Linked DNA regions of Homo sapiens. The protein of the gene in region 4 interacts with the protein of the main gene of each other region in a biochemical or structural test. Each region holds a gene or a part of one and is shown on either strand. Other genes may lie near its edges.

What was found.
Region 1: the proteins of MYOT (region 4) and TLK1 form a complex in vitro, tested with the Homo sapiens proteins (one large-scale study listed by BioGRID).
Region 2: the proteins of MYOT (region 4) and HTRA3 interact in a test that uses a peptide from one of them, tested with the Homo sapiens proteins (one large-scale study listed by IntAct).
Region 3: the proteins of MYOT (region 4) and PALS2 interact in a test that uses a peptide from one of them, tested with the Homo sapiens proteins (one large-scale study listed by IntAct).
Region 5: the proteins of MYOT (region 4) and SNTG2 interact in a test that uses a peptide from one of them, tested with the Homo sapiens proteins (one large-scale study listed by IntAct).

Annotation. Positions count from the first base shown.
Region 1 is NC_000002.12:171,044,201-171,050,163, forward strand, and holds part of TLK1 (serine/threonine-protein kinase tousled-like 1), read right to left. Parts: coding exon 5,864-5,963; intron 5,751-5,863; coding exon 5,614-5,750; intron 2,163-5,613; coding exon 1,974-2,162; intron 1-1,973. UniProt on the Homo sapiens protein: Rapidly and transiently inhibited by phosphorylation following the generation of DNA double-stranded breaks during S-phase. This is cell cycle checkpoint and ATM-pathway dependent and appears to regulate processes involved in chromatin assembly.
Region 2 is NC_000004.12:8,276,254-8,282,216, forward strand, and holds part of HTRA3 (serine protease HTRA3 isoform 1 precursor), read left to right. Parts: intron 1-5,963. UniProt on the Homo sapiens protein: Serine protease that cleaves beta-casein/CSN2 as well as several extracellular matrix (ECM) proteoglycans such as decorin/DCN, biglycan/BGN and fibronectin/FN1.
Region 3 is NC_000007.14:24,574,975-24,580,937, forward strand, and holds part of PALS2 (protein PALS2), read left to right. Parts: intron 1-5,963.
Region 4 is NC_000005.10:137,864,352-137,870,789, forward strand, and holds the start of MYOT (myotilin), read left to right. Parts: upstream 1-3,508; 5' UTR 3,509-3,602; intron 3,603-6,089; 5' UTR 6,090-6,300; coding exon 6,301-6,438. UniProt on the Homo sapiens protein: Component of a complex of multiple actin cross-linking proteins. Involved in the control of myofibril assembly and stability at the Z lines in muscle cells.
Region 5 is NC_000002.12:1,232,818-1,238,780, forward strand, and holds part of SNTG2 (gamma-2-syntrophin), read left to right. Parts: intron 1-5,070; coding exon 5,071-5,200; intron 5,201-5,963. UniProt on the Homo sapiens protein: Adapter protein that binds to and probably organizes the subcellular localization of a variety of proteins. May link various receptors to the actin cytoskeleton and the dystrophin glycoprotein complex.

The DNA.
Region 1 (5,963 bases), on a different chromosome or scaffold from region 4:
CAGCTTGAGCCCAGGAGTTCAAGACAAGCCTGGACAACATGGGGAGACTCCATCTCTTCAAAACAATAAAAAATAAAAATAAATAAAATCTGTACTTAAAATGTTAAAGGTGACAACTAGAATTCTTACATGTGAGAGGATGGTAGTGCCACTCACTAAGAGAACACAGAAAAGGGGCAAAGTATGTGTGTGTAAAGACAGACTGAATCGGAAAGATAACAGTAAATACAAGGTTTTATTTGTTTTTAGTAAATATAGTTTTGAACAGGCTGCATTAGAAGTTCCTGTGAGACATTTAAGTACTGATAGCAACTAAGCAGGATGTGATATTCAAGACTGAGACAGAAGTATCCGATACTCAAGAGAAAAGTGGGCTGGAGATGGTAATTTTGATGTCAGCAGGATGTATACGGTAACCGAAACCCTAAGAGTAGATACTACTCAAGGAGAATACGCAGAGTGAGAAATGTGACGGCCTAGGACATATCCCTAAAAGTCATCTACATTTTACAGATTGGTAAGTAAATGATGCCCATAGAAAGAGACTGAGAAGATGCAGCCGGATGAGTTAAAATGGAAACTTCAGTATCTTCAAAACTAAAATAGTCTTTTTGGAAAAAAATAAGTCAACAATATTCAGTGCTGCTACGTAAGTTAAAGACCCAAATGTTACAGCATTTAGCATCAGGAAGATAATCTTAAGAAAAATTTCAGTTAAGAAAGGGCAACTGGAAGACAAGGCAGAAGAGACTACGAGGACAGGCAACTCTTTGAAGAAGCCTAGTTATGAAGAGAACATACAGAATATAGAGACTAAAGGGATTTGTAATTGAGGGAGAGTTTTTTAATGGTTTTGCTTACATGTTTTTGGAAGGGAAGTAACAAGCAGAGCACAAAGGAGGTATCAACAGAAGAGGTTCCTGATACAGGTGTGGATGGGATTCAAAGCATGGATGACAGACAATCTTTCAATAGAGGAGAAAAGAATACATGACATACAAGACATTAGAGGGTACATGTATTTTCTCTTTTTTTTTTTTTTTTTTTTGAGAAAGTCTCACTCTTGTCCCCCAGGCTAAAGTGCAATGGCACGATCTTGGCTCACTGCAACCTCCGCCTCTCAAGTTCAAGCAATTCTCCTGCCTCAGCCTCCTGCGTAGCCGGAATTACAAGTGCCTGACACCATGCCCGGCTAATTTTTGTATTTTCAGTAGAGACGGGGTTTCTCTCTGAGAATTTACTGACCTCACGTGATCCACCCACTTTGGCCTCCCAAAGTGCTGGGATTACAGGCATGAGCCACCGTGCCCGGTCTATGTATTTTCTACTCACGTGAGTTTACGTAAGTTCTTCTAGAACAGAAAATTTATGTAAGTTTGGATACATCTGTATATTGAAATTTTAACAATGGTGTTCTCTGTGAAATGGGATCATGGTCTATATTATTATTCTTGTCCTATTTTCCAAATTTTCTTTTAAAAAATGTCTTTGTCCTTTAAATTATAAAGAATAATTCATTAACAAAGAAAATCCAGAAAACAAAGAAAAGCAGAAAGGGAAAAACAATACCTATAACCCACTAATGAACTGCTTTCACAGGCTGAGAAAACATATAAATGGTAGTTACATTACTTCATTCTCTCAGACAAAGGAATGTGAATGGAAACGTTGAATTAGAATAATCCAAAACTTTTAATTGATTCCTAACTGATTCAGACACAGAAGGGTGAATTCTGGTAACCTCTTAGCTACCTAGGTCTCTGTTTTAAAAGAGAATTGTTAAATCTCTGCTTAAAACGGTAGAATTCAGATATTTGGGGCTATTAATTTAGAGCTAAATTTTCAATACTGCCTTCCTTCCTGGTCTTAATCATTTTTGCTATCTAAGTATTAATTATAAATAACATCCATTAGTAACATTCACGCTCACTGGCAACAATTTTAAAAAAGAAAAATTTTAAATGGAGGCTTACAGTTGTGGTAAATTTGGTCTAACAAAGGGATCATTCTCTGCTCCATTGACTGCTTTGTTTTTCCTTTGTTTTGGTTCAGAATTGGTAGAGGGTGCCTGAGAATTATTAGCTGTGGGAGGTTTGCGTTTGGCTAGAAGTTTCCTTTGCCTTTCAATATCTTCCCTTTGCTGATTCACCCATTCTTGTTGCCTGTGTAAAAATAAACAAATAAAACCATATTAACCTTCCATTACTTTTCAAGGCTAAACTTGGAAAAAATGCATAAAAAACATGAAAAACCATAAAATATACATTCGTAACCTTTTGGTTCCACTCTTGTGAACCAATTTGTACTTATCCTTCAGGTCTCATTTGAAAGAATTTTTTTAAGTGAGGTATTCTCTAAACCCCTAGATTAGGGAAAGATGTGTTGCCATATATAATTTCATGGGATCTTCTATCTCCCCACCTCACTCTTTCTAATAAATATTATTCCTATAGATACTTTATCAGAAAGTGTCCGGTTAGATGACATCACTCCCTAAGAACACAGATGGTGTCTATTTATACAGTATTTATACTGTTGTATCCCTAGTACCTAGTGTAGTGATCATCACTTACCTTTGCTCAGTAAATGTTTCTTGAATGAAATGAGATAAAACAATACCCCAAACTATTAAAGTATGGGGTATATGTTACACATGCATCTCACCACAGTATTTGCAAACAAATTTACAAAAGGCAAATATGAATTTAATGTGAAGAGAGTTATTTTCTAAATCTACTTTTGTTAAAAAAAATTGGTAATGGGAAGTTGGTGTTTTGAAATGAGACAAATTAACCTTAATATAAGAAATTTATGAGAAAAATTTTTTTGATAATTTAAGGGGAAAAAGACAAGAAAATAGCAAGAAAAATTAGCATGGCTCTGAAAAATGGGAAAGTAACAAAAATAAAATCAATGCTTCCCATTCAAGAAACTGAAACAATTTTGCAAATAGCTCCCTAATTCTAAAAACGAATAGATACCATGTCTATTATTAAAATGTAGATTAGATATTTTAGCAGTTTGAGCAGAGCATAAAGTAGTTAACAGTGAAGCTTTTTAAAACCAACTTATCATACAACACCTTAAGCTTATTCTAACAGTAACCATGTTCTCTTTCAGGTCACCTCACTATGCCAATAAAAAATTTTCAAATCCTACATGGTTACAATACTTAGAGCAAGTCAAATATTTCATGCCCTCCTCTCCCCAACCACTGACATCAACTAAAGGGCTCCTACTTTGCTAATGCAGAATTGACCTTACACACATCCCCTTCCCTATGGTTTTAGTGATAAAGTAGCAGAATATGATAGGAGTGAAAAAAATCAAGAAGAATCTAGGTAGAAGATTGAAAGGGTAGAGAAAAATCTCAAGAATAGCAAAGTGAGAACAAGACTTTAATCCGGTTTTCATTTAGAAGCAGGAATAAATTTCAATTTTTAATAAGTAAATCTTAAGGCTATTTTAGGGCACAATCAAGATGGTATAAATGCAAATAAGCAATAATAATCCTAATGATTAAAATATTAATGGAAAGTAAAGAATTACTGGAATAGATATTAATAGCTGATTACTCAGGGATGACTATACAGTTTAGAGATTAATATTATTACTTTTATTTATTTCTCTTCTCATCTTCTAACCACTCTGGATTATATCACCAATTATAAACGGCTTGATATACACACAGTAGGTCCTCAATAAATGCTTATTAGTGAAAGTCAGGACATACAAGTAATTATTTTCTTTTTTGACATTATTTTTTGAGACAGACTCTCACTCTGTCGCCCAGGCTGGAGTGCAGTGGCATGATCTCGGCTCACTGCAGCCTCCACCTCCCAGGTTCAAGCAATTCTCGTGCCTCAGCCTCCCGAGTAGCTGGGATTACAGGCGCCCACCACCATGCCTGGCTAATTTTTGTATTTTCAGTAGAGACAGGGTTTCACCCTGCTGGCCAGGTTGGTATCAAACTCTCAACCTCAGGTGATCCTCCCAACTCGGCCTCCCAAAGTGCTGGGATTACAGGCGTGAGCCACTGCACCTGTGGCCTCTTTTCTGACAGTTAAGAGGAGAAATTGGAACTACTAGTAGAATTTATATTTCAGAACATTCATATTAATTATATAACTGTCTCTTTTATTCATTGCAGGACAATTGCCGGTCTGGGTTTAGTAGCAGAGCCTCTTGCTCATAAACACTAAAAAATTATCTTCTCCTGCTTTCCACTTTACTGTTGATATGTTAGTTCATGCTTTAATCACCTTTCATCTGGATACCCCTCCATCTTAACTACCAATAACATTCATCCTCTAATAATATTTTCACATTACCATCAGTTATTATTCTACAACTATCACTGTAGATATCATTCCGATCACGTACACTATATGTAAACCTTTAACAAGTCCCATTATCTGCAGAATTGAAACCCAAACTCTCTAATATCACAAGGACATTATCCTTTGTTTCACTGTGGTATAACTAGCACAGATATGTTGAAGAAAAGTTGAATAAATCTGCTGAGAGAGAAGGCCATTCTGTGGCAAGTCCTAGGAGGCAGTGTTTGAACAGCAATGTTGGTGTGATACCATGTGAAAGTAAGTTCTGCCTCTATTTCAAATAACTGGATACTCTGGAAAAGCTGATGTTCATGCTGGCATTACTCCCCATTTTCAGGTTTAAAAAAATTTTCCACCAAAAACGGAGTAGCATATTTAGCACTCCTTAACACATAAACAGCCAATAAATCCTTTTCTACCACCATCTGAACTCAAGAAAATATGGTAACTATAATTCCTCTGTTTAAAAGTTTGATCTGAAAAGTAACAGAAAACCAAACACCGCATGTTCTCATGTATAAGTGGGAGCTAAACATTGGAGACACATGGACATAAAGATGAGAATGATAGAAACTGGGGGCTACAAAGATGAAGGAGGCAGAGACAGGGGCAAGGATTGAAAAACTACTGGGTACTATGCTCACTACCTGAGTGGTGGGTTCAATTGTACCCCGAACCTCAGTATCAAGCAATATACCCCTGTAACAACCTGCATATATATTCCCTGAAACTAAAATAAAAGTTGAAATTAAAATAAATAAATAATAAATAGAGTTTACCTCAGAAACGCTAAAGCCACATGTTCAGTTTAACTGATAAATCAGTTATTATATCTGAGGCAAAAGAGAAGTTTTTTCCCTTAGGAATAGAGAGCAGGCAAGTGCTGAACATTAACATGTAAGGATTGGGGAATGGGAAAAAACTAAGTAGGAAAATCCTAGGAAATAAACACACACACAAATCTTCCAGTGAAAATTAAATTTTCAACAATTTCCCTCTCAAAACATCATCTGTAAAGCTAAAGGTTCAATTAATATCTCGGAAAGTCAGAATTAGAATAATATATTACATTCTATAGATGACTGCTAATTAATCAAGAAATTACTAAGCTAAAACTGTAATACTCTTGGTTTCATATCCCTTTCAAAGGTACTAAATTCTATGATTTCAGAGTAGCGAGGAACTGGAGAGCATAATTACAAATCTATAATCTTTTAAAGTAATGAAAACCCAAACGAATACTAAAAACTTTTAAATGTTAAGAATGACTAACTTCACAAGATTCTGAAATGCAAAACCATCTGTCCATTGTTCAGTAAATGAAGCGCCATGTCTAACTGTTGTAAAGTGCCCGAGGCGTAATCGATCTTGCATACTCTTCTCTCTGCTTGACAGCTTTTCTTGTGTACTCTGAAAAGGAGAAAAAAAATCATCACTCAATTGTATTCATTAATTTATAAAAGCATACAAAGCAAAAGGGGCTAATGAAGGGAAAGCGAAAATTTACTCAACTTTTAGCCTACCTTTTCAATAAGAAGTTTCTTGCTCATTGATATGCACTTATTTAATCGTTCTTTGTATTTTTCAAGTAATTTTTGTTGTTCATCTATTTGCCGTCTGAGA
Region 2 (5,963 bases), on a different chromosome or scaffold from region 4:
TGCACCTCAGTTTCTTCATCTGTGAAATGGATAACAGTGGGACCCCCCTCACTGGTCACTGGGCAAATGAGATGATGGACTGAGTGTGCTTTGCACGGTGCCGGGCTCATAGAAGTTGATGTGAAGAAAGGATGGCAGGTGGACGCGTCTTACAGAAGTGGAGTTAGTGAGAGTGAGGGAGAGGGGTCGAGGAAGGGGAGGAGCTGGAAGGCGGTGTCTGTGGAGGTGCTGCCATGTGCTGGCCCTGCCGGAGGGAGTTTCATTGGCCCCGGTCAAGGCAGGGAGGGCTTCCTGTAAGAGGAGGGCCAGGGGCTGTCTTCCTTGCCTTCAGTGGCATGGAAGTGCCTGACCCATGGCACTGTGCACAAGGACCAGCCTTCTTGGTAAATCACAGGCAGGCTGGCGGCAGCACCTCCTCCTCCTCCCAGGGGCTGGCTGTGGCCCAGCTGGGTGTGGAGTTTCACAGCCAGAGGAGCCAGGCTGGCCCCACATTGAGCTCGGGTCTAGGTTGAGCTTTTCTGGGGCTGGACAGGTTGTCACATTTGCCAAGGGCCAGCACGGAGCAGGGGAAGCGCCCAGGTCAGGGCTTGCGGGGCCTGGCTGTGCACCTTGGGCAGGTCCCGTGGCCTCTCTAAGCCTTGTTTCCTTGCCTGTAAAATGGACTCAGTTCCTGTCTTGCAGAATTGCTGCAAGAATTCAATGAGATCACAAACTTCGGAGCCCAGCCTGACGTCCCATGCCCAAATCGGGTCCCGCCTGCGAGGTGTGGCCCGTGGAGGGGGAGGCAGCGGGTTCCTCTGGGCCTGGGCTGCAGCCCTCATCCCGCCTGCGTTCCACATGAACAGGTCTCTGGGCTTGAGGGTGGCAGATGGCAGCATCCACCCCACGGGGAGCCACAGCTGGACCTGAGGCTTGTGGGGGCACGGTTCACTTGGGGACATGGCTCGGTGGGGCAAAGTTCACTAGGGGACAGGCAAGTTTTCCAGAGGAGGAAAAGCAAAGGAAGCTGCCCTGGGAACTAGTTAGACCCAGGAGGCAGCCCCTTTAGTGGTGGGCGGGGCTGGGGGCTGTTGAGGGGGCCCCTGGAATGGCTCCTCTGTCTCTGAAGAGCATTCATTCGCTCCCTCATTTGCTTCCTGCCCACTGCAGCGGGCCAGGTCCAGCCCAGACGCAGGGGTGCAGGCCACAGGTACACTCCCAAGGGACTAGCTTTGGGAAGGGTACGAGGTGCTGTTGGGCCCAGAAGGAGAGGTGGATCACCACGCTTGCAAAGTCAGGGTAGGCTCCCCAGAGGAGGCGCTGCTGGCCTGGGCCCTGAGGAATGACAGGAAGGGCATATTCCCAGAGGAGGGAACCACATGTGCAAAGGCACAGTGACACTTAGGAGCCTGCACGCGCAGGAAGCAGAGCCGAGGTCCACAGGGGAGAGTGGCAGCACGTGAGGCTGCAGATGTCAATGGGACCAGGACACCCCAGGCCTTGAATGCCCTGCTTAGAGGTTGCCATCTGGTCTGTAGACCATGGTCACCGTTATGGACAGATGGGCACAGCCTGGGACCCATGGCTATCCACTCATGGCTCCTCCATCCCCAGCTCACAGCTGACCACTGGGTGGCAGAGGGGTCTGCTAATTGCAGAGGGCACTAAAAGAAGGGGCAGGGACCTTAGAGATGGAGGAACAGAACTGGGTGTCAGTCCCAGCTCTGCACATTATGTGCTAGAGGGACTGATGCATACAGTTGGGCAGGTTGTGCACTGCACAACTGCAGGGAAGCTGGCCACTCTGATATTTGTCAGTAAGGGCCTGGAGTTACGCAGTGTACAAACACAAGGTATCCCCACAGAGTATCTGGGCCTCAGTGTCGCCATCTGTTCCATGGCAGTTATGACTGTCCAGAGCCAGCACGTGGTCCTCTCTCAGGGTTGGCCACAGTCCCCCAGGACTCCTGGGAGTTCCATCAGGCAGGGCTGTTGGAGCTGGAGCCCTGGCACCCTACTTGTCTCCCCTGCCCTGTTGCGCCCCTTCCTCTCCTGGGATGTGACACCGGACACCTAGCCTCGGGCCTTGATTGCTTTGCTCTGTGTGAGGGTCTCCCTGACTGAAACTTCCAGGGCTTTAGATTCCAGTTTATTGAGGAAAAAAAAAAAAAAAAGGCTAACGGCTGAATCTGGTTGAGACTGACTGTTGACTTCAGAACTTTGGCTCGAGGATGGGGTGGGGGTGGAGGTTGTCAAAAACCCCCAAATAAACAGAGTCTGCTTCCCAGCCGTGGGGCCCACGGTTTTCCTGTGGAAAGAGGCAGTGGGAACCGCGTCCTCCCTTCCCCCTGATTCATGGCTGATTCATCTGCGTGTTGGGAGGAGGAGCTGGGGCACGGGGGCCCCTGCCCCCACCCCACCACCCACCGAGGTCCGCTTAAAGGGACAGGACCTGGTGGGGCCCTGCAGGGGTGCCCCAGGCTCTGGGGTTGCCTAGACCCTGAAATCCAGCAGACCTGGGCCAGCGCCAGGCCTGCCCTCCCTCAGTGATTGATCTTTGCCTCTAAGCCTCAGTCTCCTGGGCCATAAAATGGGCGAGTGCTGCTGCTTTTGTGAGGCTGCTTGGAGACTTGGTTAATCAGCTGACCCACATTCTTTCTTCAGGGTGCTCTTTGCAGACCTACTGTGTGCTGGCTCAGAGAGCATCAAGAAGGGCCCCCTTGAACTTCTCTCCCTTCTCTCTATCTTCCTCCCCTCCTCTCTCCGCCCCTCCTCCCCCTCCATCCCTTCCCTCTGAAATGTCTCAGCGGCTGTCTCACCCTGTGCTGGTTACCACTGGGGTGTGGAAGCGAACCAGATGGTCTCTGTCCCAAAGGAGCCTGGGGTGTGGGGTGGGCACGTGCGGGCTTCTCTTTGGAGACTCTGTGGGAAACAGGCCACCTCCCAGCCCAGCCCCACGGCCCTTCTGTCTCAGGCCTTGCTCTCCCTCCCTGTTTTATTTTCTCTTTGAAAAATGAAAAAAAGTCACTGTAACTTTACCCCAACCACAAATAACCACCATGTAGTAGAATTTTGATGTTTCCTGCAAGGCTTTTACTTAACGAATATTTCACAGAGGGTTTTAAAACAAATCATCCCCTATAAAATCGAGTGTCACCTATTTTAAGTGACCTCTGGGAGACCACACTGGGGAGAAAGTCCTTCCGGTGGAGGCCGCAGTGCTGTGCAGATCTTCAGGCTGCCGCGTCAGAGCTCAGGGGCCCAGCAGCCCAGGCGCTTGAGGGGGTCCAGGGGCTGGGCTTTGGCAAGCAGGGGGTGGACACGTTGGGGTCCAGAGAGCTTTCCGGCCCTGGGTGTTGGAGTGTCTGAGTCCAGGATGGAGACACACAGGAAGGCAGCCTTTTCTAATCACCTGTGGGAGGAGAGGTGCTGCCATTCCTCCTTCTGCTGTGTTCACACTGGGCCCAGGTCCCTGTGTGCCGTGGCTGCCTGCACAGGCAATGCGGGCTCAGCCTGTGGCTTTCCATGTGCTGTGCCCCTGCCCGTGGGCTCTTCCAGGCCTGGGTCAGGGCACCTCTGCACTCACCCACCCCACGCCGGGCTCCTCTCTGCCTCATCCCTGGTGATGCTGTGCTGTCTCTGGTCGGTCACTGACTTGACCCTTGCCCCCAGCTGAACCACTGTGTCTCCAGCAGCTGTCACAGGTGGGCACACAGGAGGCACCCTGCACGAGTGGCTTGAATAAGGCTGTGAGCAGCGGCAGATTCGGTACAACTGGGGCTGCTGCGGGGCTGCCTGGAGGAGGCAGGATTAGGGCCGGGCCCAGGACCAACCAGAGCATCTTGGTAGGGAGAGTAGAGAGAGGTCGTGCAGGGGGAGGTGTAGAGAGGTGGATGATGAGCAGAAACTGGAGTTGGTGGCCCGACAAAGGCCACACGGTAGGAGAGGTAATATGGTCCCACCTGGGGGCTGTGCCCGTGCCCTGGCGCTTCTCCTCAGGCGAGGCACATGGGGCGCCAGCCTCAGGCCCCAGGGCACACAGGGGAGCAGCAGACCGGCTGAGTCCTCCCTCCTGGAGGGAGGAGGGCCTGGGCCTGGGGGTTGCCCTGGGATCCCTCTGGGTCGTGGAAATTGTGGGTCTGAGCGCATCTTGTGAGAGCTCTGAACCAGCTCCAAACCTCACCAGGGAAGCAGGCTTTGTGGCTGGTGTCCTTCCTCTCTACTTGGGTGCTAGAAAATGAACTCAAGTTCCCAGGGGCAGGGAGGAGAAGCAGACAGGCCTGGGCTGCCCACTCGGGCCGCACGGCAGCTTCACCTCACCAAGGGAGCCGCCTGCTTTGTAGGTGTCGAGCAGGGCAGCGCATCCCTCATGGAAGCAAACGTGGGCAGAGAGAGCCCTGGGCCCACAGCAGGCCCTGCCCCTGGGGTGTTTGTTAATGTGACCTCTGAACCTGAGACCCCGCTCTGCCGCAGTGGTTTGATCTATGAGGAGCCTCGCGGTGGCCGGCGTCTCCCAGCCAGGCTCTAGCCACCCCAGACAGGTGGCCTTTGATTCAGGCTGACTGAAGTGGACGAGGGCTGGTGTGGTTGGTGCCTGCGGGCCGGTTGAGAGGCAGACATCGGAAGTCTGGGAGACCCAACACCAGAGCTCGAGCCAACCCCCTAGGTCCCAGCTCAGGCTAAAGGGCTCTTCAGGGCCTTGGGGAGCTGCAGGGCAGAGGTGGGGGCACCCAGGGAAAGGAGGCCTGCGGCCTGCGTTCAGATCCTGGTTCTCCCCTCCCAGCCGTGAGTCCTTGGGCAGGGGGGTTCTTCTTACAGAGCCTCAGTGTCCCCACCTTTAAAATAGAGGAAAAGTTTCCTTCCCCTGGCTGCCCCTGGAGAGTTGGGTGAATGAATTGGGATGTGCCTGGGGATTGTGTTTGCCCTGTGATGATTCCTAGAGCACGGACCGCGGCCCGGGCCCTGCCCCCACAGTGGCATCCACCATGGTACCTTCGTGCCTTTGGACGATCCAGAAAACCAGATTTTCCCTCGGTCCCCATGCCCGGCCACTTCCCAGAGATCAAGAGAAATGTGGGCTGCAAAGCTGGAAAGCTGGACGTTATGGACTGAGCCCTCTTTGCTCCCCATTGCCAAGGTGGCTGGGTGGGTGGGTAGCCCCCCGGGCAGGGACTCGAAGTTTGCAGTCCTCCACACTCAGTTCCCACAGATGTGGTAGGAGGGCATATTCAGTCCCATTTTTCAGATGAGGAGTTGAGGCCCAGAGAACGTAAGTAATCTGTCTGAGGCCACACAGCTAGAAAGCAGCCAGGCCCAGCCGAACCCCTGGTGTGTGCAGCCCCCAGCCCAGTTGCTCATTGCGGGGCTCGGGAGCCACGAGCGAGGCTGAGCAGCATGTGTTCCAGATGGTGGGAACTGGAGAGAGCCCGGCACAGGCCCGTGCAGGGAACCCCGAGGGCTGTGGGCCCCGTGCCACTGCATGCCTCAGGCCTGTGGTCCTGGCAGCCACAGCCCCTACTGCTGACGGCAGCAGGAATCTGAGCCCGGGAAGGGTCCAGGGAAGTTCGTGAACCATCTAGCAAGTCGGGCTGGGGTGTGGCCAAGTTAGACACAGATGTAGGGCCCTGTGGACTCAGAAATTGGCAGCTCTTTTGGCCCAGAGGGGCCACACTGTGTCCGGGCCTGGGTAGCTCAGAAGGGTCACCTGGGGGTCTTCCACTACACCCCCGCCTGGACACTGCTGTAGCCCCAGGGCTCGGAGGGACCAGCTGGAGCCCATGAGGAGAGGGCCAGTTCTCTCCTGTAAGGGTATTGCTGTAGCATGAGGGAACAGACAAGGCCCAGGGGGACTAACCCGAGATCCAGCCCTGGCCTCACTCCCGTGTGGCTCACGGCAATATCCTAACCTCTCTCTGAGCCTCCTGCCCAGCCTAGCAGGGTCCAGTGAGGGGGGTGAGGAAGCCCAGCACGTGGAAGCCTTTTTA
Region 3 (5,963 bases), on a different chromosome or scaffold from region 4:
CTTGTTAACAGTAAACAAAGAACTTTTGTGGGTTGTGTCATTTTGAGGTCATTTGTACCTTAAATCTATCATATATTTAAATAGGTGTTTAAATGCGTGTTTGCACGATGTGTTACTCTTTAAGGTCCATGTTTCCTTCATTCTGGACTACGGTTACATAATACACAAATGGTAACACTTTTAATTGCTCAATTTTGTCCTATGGAGACTGCACACCATCTTTATGAAAGAGGTGTGTATGTGTCCTTACTGATGCCACCGAATTCTTGACATCTGGAATGTCAAAATGAATTATTTTGCATTCTAGGTTAAATCAACACTGGAAAAATTAAGGTGTTTAAGCAAGTCTAGTAGCTCTATATAAGACAGAATCTTTTTTTTTCTTTAGGCCAACTGTTGGATTTTTAAAAATGAATCATATTTTTAAACATTTGAGGGAGCAGTTTGCTTCTGAGTCTCATTTTAGGCTGAAATTGTTCCAGAGCACTACATAGCCTGCTTCTCTCTTTCTCTCCCCACTCCCCCTCTTTTTAGCTTGAGATAACCAAGAAGACATAACTGTGACTCTATGTGTTATCTTTTTAAAAAGTTGTTTTAAAATTGAAGTTGCTTGTTTGAATATTTACTATCCCTTTACATGCTTTACTACTTAATAATGGATTAGCAGAATAAAACAGATATTTTAATTAAATGTCTTTCATATTTTTGACATCTGAGCTTTGTAAAAATGGAGTAGCATCATATTATTGCTGAGAGAGTTACAAATAATACAGGATTAGTGCTAGTCAAAGGCTAATTGTAAAAAAACAGCCAGAAAATAAAATTAAAAGAGGTAAGAGGACGCATTTATACTTTTGACATCACTCTAATATAAATTACCTATTGCTAGGTGACTTTTGAAAAAGAGTATCTTGTAAAATTCACATTAGGTATATAATAGTTAATAATTTTTCCTTCCAGAGTGATTCACTTGATGAGTGACTAGATTTTTTTTTTTTAAATCAGAACTCTACTTCAGGTAAGTATAGTTAACCATGTAAGTGATGTGCTGATGTTTATTTCAGGAAGAATGAACACTTACCCATTTGATAAATACTGAACTGTTTGGGAATATGTCAGTTATTCCTTAAAACTTAGGCGGAGAAAAATTATGCTAGTTTTGTTTTAACTGTAGGTTCTTTAGAAAAGTAGTCTTCACATTTATAAATATAAGAGCAGATAAGCACAAGAGATCTCTTTCCTGATATGGTGCTAGTATTGAATTAAAGATTTTATTTTTTTGTTGTAGGGACCAGTTTTGTTTAGTCTTCCTGTTCAGTCTCACAGAAGCTGCAATGATTTTCCTCCTTTTCTGTTACTTGTATCTGACCACTGGGGGGAGACTTTACAATTGGGCTTGACCATATTCCTTCTTTACATACATTGGCTGCTAATCCTGGGCACTTTGTCAAACTGCTGGGTAGTGTGCTGAGGAGGATGCACTCTGAAGCAAGTCTCAATCAAGGTGTTTAATGACTTTTCTTTCTTTAACTCACAGCATGCTTACAAAGTATCATTCTTTATAGACTGTGTTATTAACAGTCTACTGTTAAGTGGTCTAAGTATGCCTCTAACATAATGAAAGATAAGATTCCTGAATACATTATAGCTTTCAAAGATCCGACTTTACTTGCATTAATCTTAGAAGCAGTGTAGGTTTAATTGCTTGCTTAGAGTACACAGATATTAGTTGTCTGGAAGGATCTGGAAAGATCATCACTCTTCTGTGAAGTGTATCTATATCCAAACCCTTTAAACAAATTGGTCTCCTCTTATAAAAAGCTTTTGGAGGAGAAGATATTGAAGCATCCCATGTAGCTAATTTTAGTGTTCATTTCACCGCAGAGGGGAAGTTCTTCCTTTATCATAGTCATATAGATAAGATTAAAGCCCACAACTTTGTTAACCATTAAGCTGTGACCATTATTACCAGGTGTAATAAAGTCAAAAGCCTGGTTTCTACTTTTTCTTTTCTGACAGTATTTAACCTTGTTAATGTCCAATTCAATAATAATGAACTCAGTAAACAGAGGCTGCTACGTTTATAGTAGTTTAGAAAGAACTTAAGTTTTATGACCTTCCTTAATTATGATAGACTAATTCAAAGACCTTTCTATAATCTTTATCATAGTAAGTATATTCACAGAGTAATGAACAGAACAAAATTAGTTTCTATTTTTCCTTCATCCTAGGTTATTTTCCTTCTTTCCTTTAAGATGACTTTGCTTTCATCCGAAAATTCTTTTTTCCTTTTTTCCTTTTTTTTTTTTTTTAATATAGTGTACTAGAAGAGATACTTTCTGCTTAGGAATATATTCATCTCTGGCTAACTTTAGGATTGTGTTAAGTACTTGGGAATGGAAGTTTCTAAAAGCCTATCTGTCAGAGTTATCACTGATACAAGGCAAAATGAGAATTAAAGACAATATAATGAATATTTCATAAAGCTCAAGTTATTTTCAGATCCTTTCTACTGCTTGCTAGTTTTGTACATGATTTAATCCCTCCTTCACCAATTTACATCTTTTCCTCTTAAATCTATCATTTCTTTACCCTCTTCCTCCACTTTTTGCTATATTTCATCTACATTGCCCTTCATTTTGTTCCTCATCAATGCCATGGCTTGCTCCTAACTTAGGGCTTTTGCACTATGTTCACTCTGTTGGGAACTCTTCCTAAATCATTACATGAGTGACTACTTTTCATCATTTCATGTTGTAGTTCAAATATCATCTTTTCAGACAAGCATTGCTACCTAACCATCCTTCCAGAATGACACTAGCCTCATCCCCCTCAATCCCATTACCTTTTTTACTTAAAAATTTCTTCAAACCATTTATCAGTATCTGAAATTATGTTTTTATATTATTTTATAATCTCCATACTCACTAGAATATAAGCCCCGTGATATCAATGATCTTGTCTCTTTTTGTTTTTGTTTTTGAGATAGAATCTCACTCGGTCACCCCAGGCTGGAGTGCAGTGGTGTGTGTGATCACGGCTCACTGCAGCCTGGAACTCCTAGGCTCAAGTGATCCTCCCACCTCAGCCTCCTGGTAGCTAGGACTATAGGCAACAACTACCATGCCGAGCTAATTAAAAAAAAAAAATTCTGTAGAAATGGAGTCTTGCTGTGTGTGTTGCCCAGGCTGCTCTCAAACTCCTGATCTCAAGGGATTCTCTCGCCTCAGTGCCTCAAAGCACTGGGATCATAAGCATGAACCACCACACCCTGCTGATCTTGTCTCTTTTGATTAACACTATATTTCAAGGACTTAGACCTGTTCCTGGCACATAGCTGTCATTAAATAAATCATCCTTTTAAAAAATCTGAGGTCATGTTCTTTCTGAGGTTTCGGTGTTCAAATGCTCCTTTATAAAATGATAGTAGTATGGTAAACAGGCCTCTTTTGGCCATAAGTAATAGAAATCCATTCTAGTTGTTATAAAGGGAATTTATCGTTCAAATGCAGCCAATGTCCAGTGGAATGCAAGGACTGGGACTCCAGTGCCTGCAGGGCACATCATATCGTTTCTCTCTTCTTCTCTGTGCGTTTGCTTCATTCCTTCTCTTGCTGCAGAGGACCACTTCTAGTCCTCTTAGTGGAAAATATGGCCACCAGTAGCTTCTGAGTTTTCATGATACCAGCCTGGGAAACTGGAGAAAGGTTCATCTAGTTCTTCCCTGTTCAATAAACTATATCTCATTATTAGAACTTGGTTGTACTTGCTGTAACCACATGTAATGGGATTAAACAGACAATCCAAGTAGGTGCCCCTGTGATAATTAATGTTCATACTTATTCATCTGCTGCAAAACACTCGTCTCTCCTCTTTTTAAATTTGATCTTGAAATCTGAAGTATCTGAAAAGCACTCTTCCTGGAGATATAGAAAAGAAATGTGATATCTTTCATGGGCATGATTTGCAGTTTGATTGAGGAAGATAAAATATATACAAAAAGGAAGTAAAATAAAAATAGCATGATAATGGAGGAACTGGTAGAAATATTTGCAATTTGTATGATAAATAAGAGTCTAACTTCCTTTATATAAAGTACCTACTAACCAATTAGGAAAAGACCAACCATCAAGTGGGCAAAGATCATGAACAGAGTAATTCTCAGAAAAGGAAATGCAAGTGTTTTGTAAGCATCTGTAAAGGTATTCAACCTCACACATAATACAAATATTATAAATAAAAACTATGAGATACTGTTTCACCTACTGACAGATGGAAAATGTTTGATAATACTTTTGAAGAGGCTATTAGTTAACAGGGGCTTTCACATTGTTGGTGGAAACACAAATCAAAATCTGATGTGGTTGAAATTTCTGAAGAGCATTAAGGTAAATAGAAAAGGCTGGAAATATGCCTTAATTGATACAGATGTTTGTGAAAGGGTAAAAAGTTAATGCACAACTTATTTGAACACTAACTTGCATTGCTTTGTTTTTGGCTAAAGTCATAAACAAACTGAAACAGCAGGCTTCCTCCCCCAAAAAGAGATACCTTTTGAGTGGTATTTAGTTACCCCTTTCCATCTTCTCCATTCCCCTTTCTTCTACCCCAGTACTGGTAAAGTTGTTTATAAATCACCGAGATTTTCCGATACTTTGTATCCTTCACACAGCCCAGCACTTTGTTACCTACTTAGTAGCACTAAGTAAAGATTTAATTGAAGGAGCTTAGCTTATCACCTTTTTATAGACCCAGTTCATAATTCTTATGTTTTTGGAAGAAATCTTTTATAAAAAGTGATTTTCAATTTCATTTGATAAATCTACTTAGAATATTTATTAGAATAGGCAATAGAGCAATTTTTTATAAATCTTGGTTTATTGTATAGCATATTAATGGAACTTTTTCATAGTTGCTTTGTTCTGTAGGATATTATTAGATATTAGTTGGGTAGGATTAATATTTTTAAAAGATAGAATAGGGCAGCTGGAGATATGTGGGACTTTTAAAGAAAAATGTATGAGAAAGTGTGGGGAAAATGATTCTCTGAGCAGACTGGGGGCCATATGCTTAGGAAAGGAAAAGTGAAAGGTGAGGGATTCGTTTAGAGAAATTCTGTGGTGGAACTCAGAGGGGTACATGTTGGGAGAAGTTTTAACTTAGGAAAATACTAAGCTGATTTACTTAAATGCATATTTCAAGGATAAATACTTTATATTTTGTTCTGTAGGTCATTTTTACCATGAAGTGACTCTGGCAGGGATTCTTTACCTAAGTGGGCATCAGAATCCTTTGGAGCTATCCTACGCTAAAGGATTCTAATTTAGTAGGTCTGGTATGGGGCAGGAGCATGTTTATATTGTTAAAATCCCCAGGAGCCACCATTTGAGTGTAAAATAATACATCCTGTGGAATATTCCATTTTAATAATGAAATCATTCAACAAAGCTTTTGAGGTTGTATATAATTTAGGTAACTCTAATGCTGGAACTTGGTCTCTCACCAGGTCAATACTTCTGCACATACCTCATTGATCCCCATTGCTTTACTCTCTTGCATACTCTTCCCTCCTCTGCCTTCTTGTTTCTTTTCTACTAATGAATATTCAGGCATGGTTCTCCAAGGAAGCCATCATTAGGTGGCCTCATCCATAATTTATCTTTTCAGTACAGAACAAATTATAACACAGTGCTTATACAACTGGCAAGTACACTCATCACATGAGTAGATGATTTATGTGTTTTCGTTCACATGAGCCTTGAACAAATATACCCAGTTTTACTAGTTGAGCTTCCTTGTTTTTTCTTCTTGCTATCAAGAGGTTGGCGTTTAGTCATAGTTAATGCTGATGTAAACATTTGATAATATTATAGATACCACCATGTTTCAAGGTCTATGTTAAATGCTCTCCACACATTATCTCATCTGCTTGTTGCAGATTTTAAAATTATGTTTTTTAAGTC
Region 4 (6,438 bases):
ATAAAACTTTAAAAGACCTTGAATTTATAAGTTAGTATCTTTCATAACACATGACCATCTTCATTAGTAAAATCACCTATGGAGAAAACTATTGGGTAAATATTCCATAAAAGTTAACAAGTTTTTATTGAGTGTCTACTATGAGCCACACTGCGTTAGGCCAAGATAAATAAGTAGTAAACAGTCCCTCTCTCAGAAACATTTTAATCTAGTTAAGGAGATAAACCTACAGAATGTCCATTATATGACTTCCCATTTCACTTGAGTCTCTCATCAATCGTCTGATTTAGGTTGGTAAACCTTGTACTACTCTTTTTTTTTTTTTTTTTGTGAGTCTGGGTTACAAGTCTTGCTGTGTCACCCAGGCTGGAGTGCAGTGGTGTGATCATGGTTCACTGCAGCCTCAAAATCCTGGGCTCAAGCGATTTTCCCACCTCAGCCTCCCATGTAGCTGGGACTACAGAAATGCGCCAACATGCCTAGCCTCATTTTTCGATTAGTTATTAAAGCTCAAAGTTTAAGCAACTTGTTTAAGGCTACACAGCATGTATGTGGTGGAGTGGGCCCTCACACTCAGGTCTCCAAAAACAGATAACAAAAGGTAAATATGTCTAGAAAGTTGTAGAGCATTAGCCAAATTAATGTTATCATTTGTATTCTTTAACTCCAAACCCGATGGATTCCATTATTATTTCTTGCTTGAGAATAATATAAGATTGAGTCAAATGTTAGACTGGATATTTCAAATTACAAATGCTACAATGGGATTCCCTTTCATTATATATCTATGCAGAACTTTAATAACCACAGTGAATTTGTGTGAACTAAAATAAAACTTTCTTCACTCCTTAGTTCTTCCATCCTCAATGTGACGTTTTCCTTTTCAGTTGATATAGCAGAAATGAGTTTCATCACACACATCTGACCTCCGAATTTAAAAGAAGTTCACAGCACCATTTTTTTTTTACAATGGCATATATATCTTATATTTTTGAAAGACAAGAGCTATATATGAAGAGGGAAGAATGAGAGACAGTTAAATAGCTACCCTGTTTCTGAAACTGACGATAGACAAGGAATCCCTTAACATGTAACAGGAAAGGTTTCAGTGAGATAGTAGGAAGTTACTATATTTTGTAAGGCATTTGAATAATTTACTGAAGGCCCTTACTGATAATTTAGAAAAAGAAATGGAAAAGGTTGTCTTTGTGAGCAGGTTGTAGTAAAAGTTCACCCATCTGGCATTGTAATAATTCCAGTCTTAAGAGTCTATGATTTTTCTCAAATAGGCAATTAAACCATTCAAATAGCTATATTTGTGAGGAAACAAACCACCATTCAAAAAAGCAAATCAAACATTAAAAGGCAGGAACAAACAGATTTACAGTAGATTATTAATATAGCCCCTGACTACTGAGAATGGTATCATAAAAGAGGACCTACTTACCTTTCCTAAATCATCCCTTGATCCCATTATAGCAAAAACTTTAGCCTTGACGTACCATGAAGGCTATCACATGTAACACACGGTAACCTGGGTTGTATCTTACAAAGACCTAGAGAAGAGGCAAAGCTTGAAAGACAAAGAGTAAGCAGAACTAAATTCTTCCTCGAGTGTAGTATGCTTAGAACCTGCTGTAGGCAAAATTGGGAATTTAGCAGGTTGTCCTGGATGTCTTCCCTACTTGGCTGGTGAGGTATACCTCAAACTTTTAGTGCAGAGAGACCTCAAATCTATTATTTCCTTTTCCATGCCCTAATCAAACCCTGTTCTCCAGCAGAACCAAATGTCAGTCACATATACCACATTTAAAATTGCTTAGAATAGATAGGCTGGGCATGTGGTTTATGCCTATAATTCCAGTGCTTTGAGAAGCCGACGTGGAGGATCGCTTGAGGCAAGGAGTTTGAGACCAGCTTGGGCAACATAGCGAAACTCTGTCTGTCCAAAAAATTTTAAAATTAGCTGGGTATAGTGCTGCATGCCTATAGCCCTAGCTACTTGAAAGTCTGCAGAGGAAGGATCTCTTGAGCCCAGGAGTTTGAGGCTGCAGTGAGTTCTGATCATATCACTGCACTCCAGCCTGGGTGACAGAGTAAGACCCTGTCTCTAAAAAAAAACTAATAATAAAATAAAATGCTTGAAGGAGTGTCTTACTCATAATAAATGCTATATATTGGCTATTATTACTTTTATCCTATCACTTGCATTTGTATTTTAAGTCTCTCTAATTTAGATGGAAAGGTTTTGTCTGTATTACTGGAATTTGAAATATCAGTGAACAGATGTTGAAGAATATTTTGGGAGACTCCTGAAATAAGACTTTGTAGGCAACCACCTACTCACCAAGTCTAGCATGCTTTTTCTACTAAGGGCTGCACGCCCAGGCAGAAATTATCAAGCTTTCTTTGAACACCAAAGAAAGGTACACCTACTTGGCCAGCTGTGAAGGATTTTATATGGCTCATATGTGCTCAAACATCTATTTGCTGGATTCTAATATACATGTTAATTCAATCAAGATTGGGGTATCTACCCATGAGGGAGGGGAACTGAAGCCACCCCATGGAGATAATTCTACTCCCTTGGCCCAATCCTCATGCCACCTACCCTACTTCACCACATTTGCTGATTCGACATTTTATTCTTCTGCAATTATTTACTTCCCTGCACAAAAATGGAAATCTAAATACCATGATGGTCTCTGTGACAAAAAGTGAAAGGAAACTAACTGTTAGGAATAAAGGGAGATGAACATGCATTGACAGCTCTAATTATATAGATTGCTTATTTGTTTGGTTGTTTCTTAAGTGTTTCAAAACTCTTTCAGAATAAAAGTACTAGGCAAAAGGGGCATATGCCATACAGATTCAGAAAACTTGCTCAAGAAACACCATCATGTTTTTCCACCTCCCTACCTTCCCAGTGACATGTCACTATGACCTCGGTCTCCTGCTTTGCCCAGACTGCCCTCCACCTCGGAACAAACTGCTAGTACTGAGAGACCTCAAATCTATTATTGAATCCTACTCTCATTAGGCAAAAGAAAAAAGACTTCAGATGAAGAATTATGCAATACAAATCAATTGGGAGCCCATCTATCACTGGTCTTATTCCTGGAGAAGTCTTAGTATAATAGATAGAAGAACTCCACTCTTGAAATATTATTTTCCCTTTAGTCCTCTCTCTTAAACTGGGAAAATTCAAAGTCCCCACCATAATAAAGAAATAAGAGGGTTTTTTTTCTATTTTTCCCATTTCCCTATTCACTGCCCTTCCCTCACATGAGCTTGCTAAAGTTCATAGTCAAAATTCACGTCTGAAATAAAGAGGCTTGCAAAAGAAGCTCATGTAATCCCACTCCTTAAATACCACTAAGACACGTGAGATATTGTTTAGATTGTGGACTCTTACTTTGACATGCCAGCATAGGTAGATGGACAGGCAAGCACATCAGATGTCACTGTTTGGCAGCTGATAAAAGTCAGTGGTGCTATAATACTAAGCACAGAGCCACTAGATTAGTCTGTGAGGGAAGGAGATGCCTCTTCCTTCCCTTCAATAGTGGGTTAAACCCAGCTGGCACCCTCTGGAACTACGGGTAAGTCCCTTCTTTATTCCTACTACACTTTTAGGTCTTGTTTTTGTTTTTTGTCCAAATCAGATGAGTGTATACAAAGATGATTTTCAGATAAAAAGTTTGAAAGCCACAACATTATAATGGTATTACACAAAAATTTAAAGAGAAAGCGACTCATTCATTTCATTGAGACTGGAAGGCATTATACAAATGATAGAAGGAAAGATAGCTGTGTGTCATTATTTTTAAATCACCATTTTTCCTTGAAAAGGGACACTTGATCTGATGTAATTGTGGTGATGTCTTATGAACGCAACATATCCTCTATCAGTCTTCTGTGCAAGTCTATGCTATATTAGAGACAGGAAAAAAATGTTAAGATTTTTTAAAAAGGAGACTGAATAGTACTTTATTTATAAAAATCTTTGAAATTCATTTAACATTATTTGGAATAAAATGACCCTGTCATATAACAGAATCTATTATAGAATTAAATTGTTGAACAGTAACTACAAACATAAAGAAAATACAGGATCACCTGCGTAAATGTCTGCATAAAATTTTGACACATGGATAAAATGAAACTTATGAAATAACATATTTTTAATTGGGCTTTTAAAAATATCACTAATTATTAACAATGTAGGCCAATATCAACATGTACAAGACAGTTGCCATTCTGAAAATATATGTAAAGAAAAAAAGAGAACTGTTTCTGGAAAATATCTACTATTTCATAAGCGGTTTATTCCTTGCTATCTGAAATGAGTCTCAATAATGTACCTGCCCAGAAAGAAATTTAGGAATCAAACTCTGGATTCAATTCTGCAACAGACTGAATAAACCGATAACTACAAAACTACTTGCCTTGAAATAGACTTTTTTTTTAGATCTACTCAAGGCCCTCCTTCAGGATGTTTTTCCCCAACAATTTAAATGCCTAAAGTAGTTCATTTCTAAAATGCATTCTAGTTTAATGTATTTGTGTTCATAAACTTGAAATTAAGGAATATTTAACTTTTTAAGTATTCTTTCTCAATAGCGTCTTTCTCTTGGCTGTTTAGTTGCATTTCTGTTTTTTCCTAAAATTGCTAGTTTTAATTTAACTCTAAACTACATAGGCAACTTTGAAATACTATTTTTTGAAGGTATCCTATTATTTAGGATGAAACTCTTTGGTCTGGAAAAGTTTTATTAACATTTTATCCAAGACAGTAACTAAAATAATTAGAAGACTTCGTTTCAATGATGACAAACAATTTGGTTAATTTTTCAGTTAAAAGTTTGATTTGTCATTATCTCAGTATTGGCTTATACCAGATGAAACAAAATAGGCAAATGTATTTTGAATCAATTTATCTGATATTTTCAATGAAAACAGGATTAGTGTGAAAACAATTTATAGGACTAGTCTTTGTGTGTAATGTCTATATATAGTCCCGCTTAGGTTTACCATACTAATGGAAAAAAAATCAGAGACAAATATAATCCTTCAAGGTTGATTTTCATGGCAAATGTTTCATCTGAGAAAAAATGAGGATGTACTGTAGGAAGGCAGGAGGCCCACTACAGAGCTAAGTAGGAGGAATGGCACCTGTCTTTTCTTGGTAAGGTATAGACTAGTTTCATATGTGTCTTATTTACTTCTATGCTTCCTGTTTGCCATTTGAAAAGAAAAAGTAAAAGAGCTAAAGCAATTTCAAAATTAGTCTGAGATCTCCAAAGGTGTGGCAAAAAAAAGAAAAAAAAGACCAAAAAACAAAATTAGTCTAAAATACATACTAAACAAATAATAAAAAGTAAAACTCTAGATAATTAAAAGAACATCAAGACCAACAACTAGGAAGTATAATCTAAAAATAACAGAATTATAAGGTATGATTCTGTTTAAAAATACATAATAAAAACAGAAAAATGTATAAGTGGCTCTGGAATGCAGCCTGTAACATATGTTCTACACAAACATATACACACAGTCACTCCTTAATTAATATCTAGTTTAGTAATATGGTCAATTTGGAATCAAGGAGAGAAAAAGAAGCAGTGAATTGTAAGGTTAAAAAGCAATCCACTCAGCTGGGTGCGGGGGCTCATACCTGTAACTCCAGCACCAAGGGGGGCTGAGGCGGGAGGATTGCTTGCAGCTAAGAGTTTAAGACTAGTCTAGGCAACATAGTGAAACCCTGTCTCTACTAAAAAAAAAAAAAAAAAAGAAAGAAAGAAAAAAAGAAAAATTAGCCAGGCGTGGTGGCTTATATGTGTAGTCCTTACTCTGGAGGGTGCAGTGGAAGGATCGCTTGTGCCCAGGAGTTGGAGGGGCTACAGTGAGCTATGTTCGCCTGGGCGATTAAGCAAGACACACACACACACACACACACACACACACACACACACAAAAGGAAGGAAGGAAAGAAAGGAAAAGAAAAAGCACATCAGATCTGAAAGATGTCAAATAAACAATGTTATTGTTTAAGCAAATATTGTAACAATTATTTTCTCCTTTTGAAGGAACAATATTCTTCAAGAGAAGGTCACTCTACCAAAGCCAGGAGCACAGTATTCTCAGGATCTCAACAAGGAAGAGCAGACCAAGGTTGCTTCTGATTCCTTACAACCTTCCGTAATTCCAGGCTTGTGGCCCCAAATTCAGGGCCCCACCCTTCCAGGAACAAATCATTATAGTAATAATTTGCCTTCATCTTCCATATACCAACTAAGCATGTTTAACTACGAACGTCCAAAACACTTCATCCAGTCCCAAAACCCATGTGGCTCCAGATTGCAGCCTCCTGGACCAGAAACCTCCAGCTTCTCTAGCCAGACCAAACAGTCTTCCATTATCATCCAGCCCCGCCAG
Region 5 (5,963 bases), on a different chromosome or scaffold from region 4:
ACACGTTCTGTTTTTGTCTCGAGTACTCGTAATTTTCAGTCATGAGCTAAAATACACACACATGCACACACACACACATGCACACTCTCCTTATTTTCCAAAGCATGAAGGCTTAAAGTAAACAGGCATGTGTGCAATGCACACCTTTCCTCTCTGTTACCACAGGCACAGAGGGAGGTGGTGGCCAGAGCCGACAGGGAGTGACAGGCTGTGGTTGTAATGAAGGCCACCAGCCATCATTTATGGATGAAAGCTTCCTTGGTTAAATTTTGTACGTTCCAATGTATTTATTCTTTAAAAACTGGACAGCTTATTAAAAAGGCGATTTACACATTTTGACTTTCTCCGGCATTGAAGCTTTGACGAGCAATTAAGAATTCTCAGTTTTTAGGGTCAAATTTTATAGTTACTGGAATCCCACAGCACAAGGGAAGCAGAAGGTTGGAAGAGTGGTCATTGGTAGCGGATGTAGCAGGGGTCTCGGTTTGGGGCTTTAATGACAACTGCTAATGCTCTGTGATTGGTTTCCGCTGAAACAGATGATTTGAAAAAGGGTCAAATCTGTTGAGGTGTGTTTTGTGACAGGAAGATTCCCAGCGGTGTGGGCGGGATTCGGAGGCCTTTCTGCATGTGGACAGGAAGACCGCAGCGAAGGCAGGCAGTGTGACCGGGCACATGAGAGCTGGGCTGTGGGGCTTTTCCCGGCAGGAGCCGCAGGGTGCAGGGTTGAGGCTGGCACTGAGCCCACAGTCAAGAGCGCAGGAAGAACGGCTTAAACAGACTGGCTGTCCTCCACAGGAGGTGGAGACCTGAGCACGTAACTTCAATTCCTTAATGTCCTAATACGTTAAGACATGTGCTTTGAACGTTATTGGAATAAATTTATTTCTCTTAGCCAAAAACTGAATTGATTCACTTTCTAGAGTATAAGTCTATTTTCAGTTTTCTCTTTGGAATTGAAAAATTCTCTAAGGGCACGAGGAAACCCTGGGAGGAGGGTAGACTTTTCAAAAGTGCCGACACAGTCAGTGCTTGACTTCCCCATGGATGGCGAGTGTCTGGGAGCTGGTTTGGTTTCTTCTCGGTGGACCCCGGGGTGCCAAGCGCTCTGCCTTCACTTGGTGTGGCTTTGCTTACAGCAGCTTCCTACAATCTCATGTGTGTCCATCAAAGAGCATGTTAGCTCCTGAGCAGCAGATGCTCTGTGAATTTTAGCTCCGATAATGACCTTGGCCACGTGAACACCATCCTAAAAGGCCTGAGCGGCCACCATGAGGCGGGTAGAGAGGCCGGGTTCCAACTGTGAGCCACGGAGGAAACTCGGAGGAAACCGTGAAACTCGGAGGAAACAAAGGCCCAGAAATGCCCTGGAAGAAGCGGCTCCTGATCTTGCATCCAGACGTGCCTGAAAGCAGATTGCGTGACTTACACTAGTTACCCGGCTTCTATAACAATAAACCAAACAGTGAACCAACAGTGAGCCACGCTGTGAACTTTCTTTCCCTGTTTCATTAACATGTTAGTATCTGCCATCAGCATTCATGTCAACAACTTTCACAGTTTCTGTTCATTTGATACTTAATTTTTATTGCTTTCTTTGATAAATTACAGACTAATAATGTTTATATGGTACTTACGGGCTTACAAATAACTTTGTTTCAGTTATCCCATTTGTTCCTCTCAGTATTCCTATTTTGTGGTACGGTTGGCATTTGAAGCCCATCGTACGGACAAGGAAAGCCCAGCTCAGAGGTGAGATGTCCAGCCTGCCTCATGAAGCTATGGCATAAACGTGCCTGGACTGCAGACGCCTTCCTTTTTATTGCAGGACACAGCCGTCTGCCCCTCGTGCGAGTCCGTGAGCCTCTGGGGCTCCACGTGCATTCACTGCCTCAGGGGGCAAAGCTGATGATCTTTCTCAAGACCACAGCATCGATAAAGGGTCCTTCATGGAGCCTGGGTCCACTGTCTCTACTCACATCTTATTCCTGCTACATCAATGATGGTGTAAACCTCCAAAGGCAGAGTTAGGACTCTGGACTCAGATTCCTTCTCACCACTGACTTTACGAGGATGACCACAGTACTGACCCTGCTGAGAGCACCCAGTGTTCAGTCATCCATGCATTTGGTGCATACGTCACCAACCCTGAGAATCAGGAAATGCCAACTCCCTGAGAAGACACTGTCGTTAGTACATGTGAGCTGGAGCCAAGCGGTGACCATGCGTGTCCTTCACACGCCCTCACGCGCAACCAGGGACCCCCAATTCATGAGAGGGGGGACCCCTGCCCCCATGCTGCCCTGAGGTCCCTGCAGGCCCCACCAGGCACCCCCGATTCATGAGAGGGGGCGCCCCTACCCCACTCTGCCCTGAGGTCCCTACAGGCCCCACCAGGCACCCCCGATTCATGAGAGGGGGCGCCCCTACCCCATGCTGCCCTGAGGTCCCTGCAGGCCCCACCAGGCACACCCTATTCATGAGAGGGGGGCCCCTGCCCCACGCTGCCCTGAGGTCCCTGCAGGCCCCACCAGGCACCCCCGATTCATGAGAGGGGGGACCCCTGCCCCACGCTGCCCTGAGGTCCCTGCAGGCCCCACCAGGCACCCCCGATTCATGAGAGGGGGCGCCCCTACCCCATGCTGCCCTGAGGTCCCTGCAGGCCCCACCAGGCACACCCTATTCATGAGAGGGGGGCCCCTGCCCCACGCTGCCCTGAGGTCCCTGCAGGCCCCACCAGGCACCCCCGATTCATGAGAGGGGGGACCCCTGCCCCACGCTGCCCTGAGGTCCCTGCAGGCCCCACGAGGCACCCCCGATTCATGAGAGGAGGCACCCTTACCCCCACGCTGCCCCAGGATCCCTGCAGGCCCCCTAGTCTAGCTGGATCCAGGAAAAGCTGCCCCTGGCCCACACTGGCACCACCCCCTGTTCCTCCCCAGGCCTTTGGAGAAGAACAGGCTCTTCTGAAAGAATAAAAGCGTAGAGCTCTGAGATGGGGAAAATTGGAGGATGGGACACAGGGAACTTTTGAGGATTCTTCTAAAGTCTGTTTTTGGTCTGAGAGTTGGTTGGCCAAGAGTATGGAATACATGACTGTTTATCGAGGTGTTCACTGGTGAGTTGTGTGCGTGTGTGTGTGTCCTGTAGCTCAATGTAAAATATGCCTAAAAATAATAGTCTCTGACCTCTTCATGTGGGGAGCCAGGGAACTTGGCTGTCGTCCGCAATAATCTACTTGACCCAGCTGTTTATTAACCACTAGATTAAGGTCAGCCTTGCTTTGTATATGTCGCACCAGTTAACATGAACAAATGAGAAATGATGGCAATGAACCCATTTTTAGTTAGCACTTACTTTAATAAGAATTAATGGATACTTGGACAAAAGTGTAGATATAAGTCTGTCAATATTTAATAAGCACCTAATTCATGTGGAATATTACACAATCTGCCTAAAATAGTCTCCCAGCATTTTGAAGTGTAAAAATTAATTTATTATAGCAGACATCCAGGACCAAAGGCCCCACGGGAAGCGATGGATCCTGAGGGACAGGTGCTCCCCAGGAGGACCAGGAAAGGTGATCAGAAAGGGCTGTGCGAAGGTGGAGGCAGAGCTGCCTGCCCTCCCCATGCAGGGGACCTGCTTCCTCTGGCTTCTTCCCCTCTCCGGCTCCACACAGTCACCTCCACCTTCACCTCTGTCCTCCTGCCAAGTCAAGAGTACCTTGTTCATCGCCATCAGGCAGAATATCAGCCACAAGTAGATAAACCTCACATTCTGATTCAAGAAACACTAATTAGAATGAGAATGACCCCTAGACAGGGATGTCAGCTTTTTAAAAGAATGACTTTTAAAATAGCAAACTCTGGTCTGATAGATTTGGCTCAAAAATATGCAGAACTGTGTTATACCATCTCTGTTTCCTACCCCTTCTCCTACACACCCCACCTTGCCTAAGAAAGCAGCGATGACACTCACATTTGAAAGATTATTAGAACATAGCTTAGTGATGACTTATTTTTTTAAAAAAATATGTTTGCTTTGTTCTGTATTTTATCTTCAGTTAGCTGCTTGAGACCATGGAGGTATTATGAGTCATATACATTAATATGCATTGTTTTCTTTTTTTCTTTTTTTTTTCAGATAGGGTCTCACTCTGTTGCCCAGGCTGGAGTGCAGTGGTGTGATCTCGGCTCACTGCAACCTCTGCCTCCTGGGTTCAGGAGATTCTCCTGCCGTAGCCTTCCGAGTAGCTGGAGCTACAGGTGTGTGCCACCATGCCCGGCTAATTTTTGTATTTTTCGTAGAGATGGGACTTCACCATGTTGGCCAGGCTGATTTCGAACTCCTGACCTCAAGTGATCCACCTACCTCAGTCTTCCAACGTCCTGTGATTATAGGCGTGAGCCACTGCGCCCGGCCAATATGCACTATTTTCTTAAGAAAAAGTCTATAAAAGTGTACATGACATTTCTCTTTTGCAAATAGGCATATGTAAAGTATGTTTTTAAAAAATATTGCATGACAGGGAAGAACTACTGAATTTGAGACGGTTGGTTGTTAATACTTTGCCATGATTGAGTTCTCAGCAAGTGGAGTGTCATGGAGCAGTGGAAGGGGACTATGTTCTCCCAAAGCTCCCCTGTCAATCAGAAGCACACAGGTGGTCCTAGAGAAGGGTGGATGCTGAGTGCAGAGGGTGCTGGGCTGCTCCAGCCTCACCCCATCAGGAGCTTTAAGTGCTCCATCCAAAGGGTCTTCGAAAGAATAACCAGTAAGAATCCTGCAGACAATAACTCCAGAATTTCAGGAGCACTGTTCTTTCCTTGACAAAGTGCTTTTCATGTTTCATCGAATTAGAAGTAGCTCCTGTTACCAAGGGAATTCGGGGTTTGGTCTTGGTCTCAGCGAGCCTGCTGACTGTACTGAGGCGCCTGAGGAAGTGGTGCAGTTGCCCCATGTCCTGGGTCCAGGGTAGAGCCCTGCTGAGCATCAGCCTCGAAACTCACGGAGGCAGGCCCGCTCCCGTCGCTGCGGGGCCTCCTGGACAGCTCTCTCCCTCCCCAGGTGGAATGCGTTCGAGGTGCTCGCCCTGGACGGAGTCAGCTCTGGGATCCTCCGGTTTTACACAGCCCAGGATGGCACCGACTGGCTGCGGGCGGTCTCAGCCAACATCAGGGAGCTGACACTTCAGAACGTGAGCACACGGTGTTTCTGAGTCTCTGCTGATGCTCATTCGTGCATGAAAAATAATGGAGACATCATGTTTCTGATGATTTATGATTAACCCGAAACAGAAAATCATGTACTTGTTTCAATGTGTCAAATCTATGTCTAAAAACATTAAAAATGAAGCCATCAGAATGTTTCCAAATCAAAGAGTAAGGCAATGTCTAACAGCTGAGAATTTCCCATCTGGTTTTGTCTTCCTCCTCCCCTCTGTCTGCCTCTGTCTCTCTCCCTCCCTTCCTCTCTCTTTCTCTCCACACACATATACAGAAATAGTTATATGTCATAATTTTATATTTTACCCAAATGCATTGATACAGTGTGACATTTTGAGTTGGGGAAACCTAATTGAGTTAAAAGTATAATTCTCCCAAACATTATGAAGATTTAGAAAAAGGCATAATTGAGCAAAAACATTACTTCTCAAATTTGTACTGCAGTCCCCCAGAAACGAAAAAGTATTCTGTCCCCTTAAGTGATGTTTGATATTAAAAGTCAACAGGATTTTAAAAATTAAAGAAATGAAAAGAGATGGGGTGGGAACGAAGACTTGATGACACGGGCGTTGCCTGGAGTGATGGGTGCCTGGACTCGGACATGGAGCCGTGGCCGCAGCCCTGGCAACTGTGGCAGGACTGGCCGTGCCTGGAGGCGGCCCTGGACCAGCCTTGCTGCCCTTGCTCCCTCTAAGCTGAGTTGCCCTGTAATTGCACTTCGATCCCTGCTCTGTT